2 linked regions of the Homo sapiens genome follow. The protein of the gene in region 1 purifies or fractionates together with the protein of each later gene. This does not show direct contact. Each region holds a gene or a part of one and is shown on either strand. Other genes may lie near its edges.

The links. Proteins that work in one complex are often made in the same cells at the same time.
Region 2: the proteins of TBC1D9 (region 1) and ABHD16A purify together in Homo sapiens (co-immunoprecipitation; 3 studies listed by BioGRID and IntAct, with this or other methods). This does not show direct contact.

Annotation. Positions count from the first base shown.
Region 1 is NC_000004.12:140,746,386-140,749,885, forward strand, and holds part of TBC1D9 (TBC1 domain family member 9), read right to left. Parts: intron 1-3,500. UniProt on the Homo sapiens protein: May act as a GTPase-activating protein for Rab family protein(s).
Region 2 is NC_000006.12:31,693,325-31,696,824, forward strand, and holds part of ABHD16A (phosphatidylserine lipase ABHD16A), read right to left. Parts: intron 109-3,500; coding exon 35-108; intron 1-34. UniProt on the Homo sapiens protein: Phosphatidylserine (PS) lipase that mediates the hydrolysis of phosphatidylserine to generate lysophosphatidylserine (LPS). LPS constitutes a class of signaling lipids that regulates immunological and neurological processes.

The DNA.
Region 1 (3,500 bases):
GGAGTGCTTTCATTTTTCTCAAGGTAGAGTCCATAGCTTTTATTAGATTTTCAAATGGGGGGTGGTTATAAGAGGAAAATAAGATTAATATACACCATTATAATTAATCTATTAGTCCATTTTCATGCTACTGATAAAGACATATCTGAGAGGGGGCAATTTACAAAAGACTGTGGTTTAATTGACTCACAGTTCCACATGGCTGGGGAGGCCTCATAATCATGGTGGAAGATGAAGGAAGAGCAAAGGGACGTCTCATATGGCATCCAGCAAAGAGAGAAATAAGAGCCAAGCGAAAGGGGTTTCCCCATATAAAGCCATCAGATCTCGTGAGACTTATTCACTACCATGAAACGGTATGGGGGAAACCGCCCCCATGATTCAATTATTTCCACTGGGTCCCTCCCACTCAAGTGAAAATCATGGGAGCTACAACTCAAGATGAGATTTGAGTGGGGACACAGCCAAAGCATATCAGTCTTGTAAAGAATACTAAATAGGACGGGCGCAGTGGCTCATGCCTATAATCCTAGCACTTTGGGAGGCAGAGGCAGGAGGACTGCCTAAGCTCAGGATTTTGAGACCAGCCTGGGCAATATAGTGAGACCCCATCTCTATTAAATAAAAATAAAAAATAAATAAATAAATAAATAAATGCATATAAAGAAGAATACTAAATAGGCTGGATATGGTGGCTCATGCCTGTAATCCCAGCACTTTGGGAGGCCTAAATGGGCAGATCATCTGAGGTCAGAAGTTTGAGACTGGCCTGGCCAACGTGGTGAAAGCCCTCCTCTACTAAAAAAATACAAAAAAATTAGCCAGGCATGGTGGCATGCACCTGTAGTCCTAGCTACTTGGGAGGCTGAGGTAGGAGAATCGCTTGAACTCAGGAGGTGGAGATTGCAGTGAGCCAAGAGTGTGCCACTGCACTCCCGCCTGGATGACAGAGAGAGACTCTGTCAAAAAAAAAAAGAATAATAAATACAAAATCAAATAGGCTCACACTTATTAGGTGTGGGACCTAGGGTAAATCACTCAATCTCTTTAAGGCCTTAGTTTCCTTTTCTACATACTGAGGATAATAATAGCATCTACCTTATAATGTCAGATAAGATAATCTATACCAATATCAACTAATCAGGACAACTATACAAACTGGACAAAATATATTTCAAAATATCAAAAAATAAAAAGCAACAAGTTACCATACCTGAAAAAAAGACAGGCTCCAAGGGGGAGAGCTCTATATTTTAGAGTAACAATTATTTTGGGAGGCATGTGCCCCTTCCATAAGGGGCTGCTGAGTAAGCTGAGAGTCTGGATGTGCTTTTAACAGAATCCTGGACTGGGGGGACCAGGATAGGAGTTAGTACCACCAAAGAGGTAGGGCAGCTAATGATGCCACCCTTTCCTCTTTGGGTTGGGACGATGGAGGGCTATGACCTAATATAACTGTAAATCCTAAGTAGGCAAATCCACTCAAGTTAGAGCTCAGCTAGAAAATATATCAGTACCAAAAATTAGTGATTTTAGTTTGCAACTGGCAGAAAAAATTTTTCTCATAGAAAATAACATTATCTTCTCCTTCAGATTAGTTTCACAAACTAGAAGTACAAGGTCCAGTTCATAATCAAAAGTAGCCAGACATAAAAAATGACATCAGAGCATGAATGAAAATTAGGAGAAAAAACAGACAGCAGAACAGGCTTAAAAGAGCTCGAGATATTTAAGTTAATTGAGGCCTTACAAGAACCATACTTGCTCAAAAGAGACAAAAAATAAGATTGAGAATTGTAACAACTGAAAATTAGACAATGAACCAAACAGGAATATTTAATTTAAAAAAATAATTAAAAGTGGTTGGGCTGAACAGATTAAATATAGTTAAGGAGATAGTTATTAACTTGGAACAGAGATCAGAAAAAAGTAGCCAAAATGAAGTAAAACTTAAAAGGTAACAGACATAGAAGATACAATGAGATGTCTAACATACATGTAATTGGAGTGCCAGAAAGAGAGATGAGGGGATGAAGGAAAGGCCATATTTGGAGACAGTGGATGAGAATTTTACAAAACCAACGAAAGACATATTAAAGAACACCTACTACCCCTAAGCAGGATTTTTAAACATCACAAATTATCTAGATCATATTAAAACTGCAGAAGACCAAAGTCAAAGAGAAAACCTTAAAAGCAGTTAGAGAAAAAAGACATATTACTCACAAAAGAACAACAATTCAGAGTGACAGTTTACCTCAGAAGAAACGATGTCTCAACCATGCTTAAAACATATTAAGTGCCAACCATTCAAAACAAAAATATCCTTCAAGAAAGAAAGCATAATAAAGACATTTGGAGACAAACAAAAACTGAGAAAAGCTGTCACAAGCAGGTCCTCGCTAAAGGAAAGAGTAAATGATGTTTTTCTGGCAGTGGAAAACGGATTCCAGAAAAATGGTCAGAGAGGGAAGAAGAAAGTAAAACAAAAATGGTAAACGTGTAGAGATCCAACTGAATACAGACTTTAAAAATAGTAATAACTGCATGTCCTTGGGTTGAAAATATGTTAAGAATTAAAATATACTATTACAACACAAATGGTATGTAAATTGGGGGTGGGGAGTTAAAGTATTCCATGGTCTTTGCAATCTATGAGAAAATATTTAACATGTCAATTTAAAAAATAAAAAATAATGGCCAGGTGCAGTGACTGACACCTCTAATATCAGCAATTTGGGAGGCTGAGGTGGGAGAATCACTTGAAGCCAGGAGTTTGAGACCAGCCTGGGCAACATAGTGAGACCCTGGCTTTCCTTTAAAAAAATAAAAGGTAAAAAAAAAAAGTACTGGTTAATAATATAATTGGATGAGTCAAAAATGCATTTGTATTGTCCAGAATAACCACTAAAAGAATAATAAAATGAATATAAAACTTCTAGCTAATAGAGTCTCAAAAAGTGTAACTTAAAAAGAATTATTCCCATATCCCACCAAAAAGCAAGGAAGGCAAAATACAAAGAACACAAGGTAGCTAGAAAAAGTATAAAGCACTTAATAAAAGAGCAGATTTAAATCCAAGTCACATGGACATTAACTAAATAATACAATTAAGAGTCAAAAATTTTCAAAATTGAGTAAGAAAAAAGTCAACTGCCCAGGTATGGGGGCTCACACTTGTAATTCCAGCACTTTGAGAGGCCAAGGTAGGGGAATTGGTTTAGGCCAGGAGTTTGAGACCAGCCTGGCCAATATAGTGAGACCCCGTCTCTATTTATAAAAAACAATTAAATTACTAAACATTATAAAAAGGAAATAAATCAACTATCTGCTATTTATAAAAGACATATCTAAAACATAAGGATACAGAAGAGTTGAAAGTGAAAGTATGAAAAAGAGATACCATAAAAATACTAACCAAATAAATCTATTCTAACCATAAGAATGAGACAAAAGCAATTCTGGAAATACATGTGAACATTTCATAATGATAAAATGCT
Region 2 (3,500 bases), on another chromosome or scaffold:
GGGGAGAGATACAGCAAAAGAACTGGGGCCTCACCGGCTGCTGGGTTCTTCCCAGTGGAAGTCGACTGGCCAGCTCCGGAAGTCAAAGTTGTAGTTGGCAAGCTGCCTCTGCAGTGGGCACGAGAGGCAAAGGGGTACTGAGAACTCAGGGGAGGCTCTCCTACCCACCCTCAACAACACCTTCGTTATCCAGGGGTCTGATCCCCACACATCATGGGGAAACCAAGCGGAGGTCAATACCCTCCCAATTCTCAGATGGAAAATTCTAACAGGACCAGAAAATCAGGGGAGATGGTATGCCCCATCAGGTATCAGGACTGGCCTGTCTGCCCTCTTCCAAGCTAAGAACCTAACACTCTGCTTTTCTAAAAAACTAAGTCTGACCCATCCCCAGGAGGAGTGGCTGAAGGTGCTAGTGCTTTTGAGTGACGGGTAGTAGGGGTCGCTGGCTGGTCACGGTCTATTCCCCACCTGGGTCCCTTATAGGGTGCTGTCTTAGAAGCTTAGAAATCTCCCAGCAGATCACACTGACAGACCCAAGGTTGAGTGAGACAGAGAGGAGGGAAGTCACGCCCACAGTGGGCTCCTCTGCCATGTGGGGCCACCCGTTGAAGGAAGCTCTGACTTCCATCCTCACAACTACATCCCTTCCTCAACTCCTGCAGCCATGGATCAGTGTTGCCCTACAGCCCATCCGAACCTCGGGCCACCCCACTGAGCCAGTCCACATGCCTTTTTTTTTTTTTTTGAGGCAGGGTCTCGTGCTGTTGCCCAGGCTGGAATGCAGTTGGTGCAATCATAGCTCACTGCAGCCTCAAACTCCCAGGCCCAAGTGATCCTCCTACCTTAGCCTCTGGAGTAGCTGGGACTACAGACATGTGCTACCATGCCCAGCTAATTTTTAAAATTTTCTTTAGAGACAAGGTCTTACTATGTTGCCCAGGCTGGTCTCCAACTCCTGGGCTGAAGCGATCCTCCTGCCTTGGCTTCCGAAAGTGCTGGGATTATAGGCATGAACCACCTCACCAGCTCCACGTTTTTTGACGGCAGTGGGAGCTGTGTCTTTTTTTTTTTTTTTTTTTTTGAGATGGAGTCTCACTCTGTCGCCCAGGCTGGAGTGCAGTGGCACGATCTCGGATCACTGCAAGCTCTGCCTCCCGGCTTCACGCCATTCTCCCGCCTCAGCCTCCAAGTAGCTGGGACTACAGGTGCCTGCCACCACCATGCCCGGCTAATTTTTGTACCTTTAGCAGAGATGGGGTTTCACCATGTTAGCCAGGATGGTCTTGATCTCCTGACCTCGTGATCCACCCGCCTCGGCCTTCCAAAGTGCTGGGATTACAGGTGTGAGCCACCGCGCCCGGCCTAGCTGTGTCTTAATACTTGACTATATTCGTCCCCCACCCCCTGAGCTCCTAGCACTCTATTTTGAGGGTTTTTATTTTCTGCACAGAAATTTTTTGACATTTCAAAAATAATTTGACTAACAGAGAGCAATAGAAAAATTATACAAAAAGGTAAATGGCAAAACAAAACAAGATGACTAAAAGCAAATTTCAGGCAGGCTTTGCTCAGACCTGCTCTCAAATCTGGACTTAGCCACTTTCTTGCTCTATGACTCCGAATGGGTCACTTAACCTCTTTTTGCCTCTGTTTTCTCACATTTACAAATAAAGGTAATAATGCCACCTCACTCAGCTGTTGTGAGGATCAGAAAGGGTGTGTGCCAAATGCTTCAGCCAGTAGCATAGTACAGGGCATCATTACGCAGCTCCATAGTGTGGAGTAGCCAGGAATGTGATGATGGTGGTCATAGCTGTTTGATCCTAGAAACCTCCCATAACAGAAAAGAGCTCTATGGGGCCCCAAAGCCCATCCTCAAAGATAATCACAGTCCAGCACCAGCCGGCTTGGCATAATTCCCAAGACACTGAGCCCTAGCTTTTCTCCCTCCTGGCACCATGCTGTACTCCCAGGCATAGGAGTGGACACACCTGTCCACCTTGTCCCATCCACAAACAAGGATAGCATGGTATTCAATGCATACAACAAAATTAAACATTTATAGAACTGAGCTGCTGTGATACAGAGAAAACTACCTTCTAAGAAACATTGTGGGCTGGGTGCAGTGGCTCACACCTGTAATCCCAGCACTTTGGGAGGCCAAGGCAGGTGGATCACCTGAGGTCAGGAGTTTGAGACCAGCCTGACCAACACAGCTAAACCCCATCTCTACTAAAAATACAATATTAGCTGGGCGTGGTGGCGCATGCCTGTAATCCCAGCTACTTGGGAGGCTGAGGCAGGAGAATCGCTTGAACCCAGGAGGCGGAGGTTGCAGTGAGCTGGAATCATGCCATTGCACGCCAGCCTGGGCAACAAGAGCGAAACTCCATCTCAAAAGAAAAAAAAAGAAACACTGTGGGCCAGGCACAGTGGCTCACACCTATAATCCCAGCACTTTGGAAGGCCAAGGCAGGCAGATCGTCTGCAGTCAGGAGTTCAAGACTAGCCTGGCCAACATGATGAAACCCTGTCTCTGCTAAAAATACAAAAATTGGCCAGGCACGGTGGCTCACGCCTGTAATCCCAGCACTTTGGGAGGCCGAGGCAGGCGGATCACAAGGTCAGGAGATCAAGACCATCCTGGCTAACATGGTGAAACCCCGTCTCTACTAAAAATAAAAAAATTAGCCGGGCGTGGTGGCAGGCGCCTGTAGTCCCAGCTACTCAGGGGGCTGAGGCAGGACAATGGCATGAACCCGGGAGGCCGAGCTTGCAGTAAGCTGAGATGGCGCCACTGCACTCCAGCCTGGGCGACAGAGTGAGACTCCGTCTCAAAAAAAAAAAAAAAAAATTAACTGGGCGTGGTGGTGTGCACCTGTAATTCCAGCTACTCAGGAGGCTGAGGCATGAGCATTGTTTGAACCCGGGAGTTGGAGGTTGTAGTAAACTGAGATTGTACCACTATACTCCAGCCTGAGTAAGAGTGAGACTCTGTCTCAAAGAAGAAAAAAAAAAAAAGAGGCCAGGAGTGGTGGCTCACGCCTGTAATCCCAGCACTTTGGGAGGCTGGGGCAGGCAGATCGCCTGAGGTCATGAGTTGGAGACCAGCCTAGCCAACATGGTGAAACCCCGTCTCTACAAAAAATACAAAAATTAGAGGGTGTGGGTGGTGCGTGCCTGTAATCCTAGCTACTCAGGAAGCTGAGACAGGAGAATCACTTGAACCTGGGAGGTGGAGAGTGCAGTGAGCCGAGATCGTGCCATTGCACTCCAGCCTGGGCAACAAGAGCGAAACTCCATCTCAAAAAAAAAAAAAGAAAAAGAAAAAAGAAACATTGTGGAATGTTTCTAGTTTAGCCAGTTCTTACAGGTGAGGGAGGGGGAAGATTGTTCTAGCAGAATATTCCATTAGAAGTGGTAGGGAGGAAAAATTCCTCAGGTGGACAGTTCACTAATGGAGGTGAGAAGGGATACAGCAATGTGCAAGCAAACAC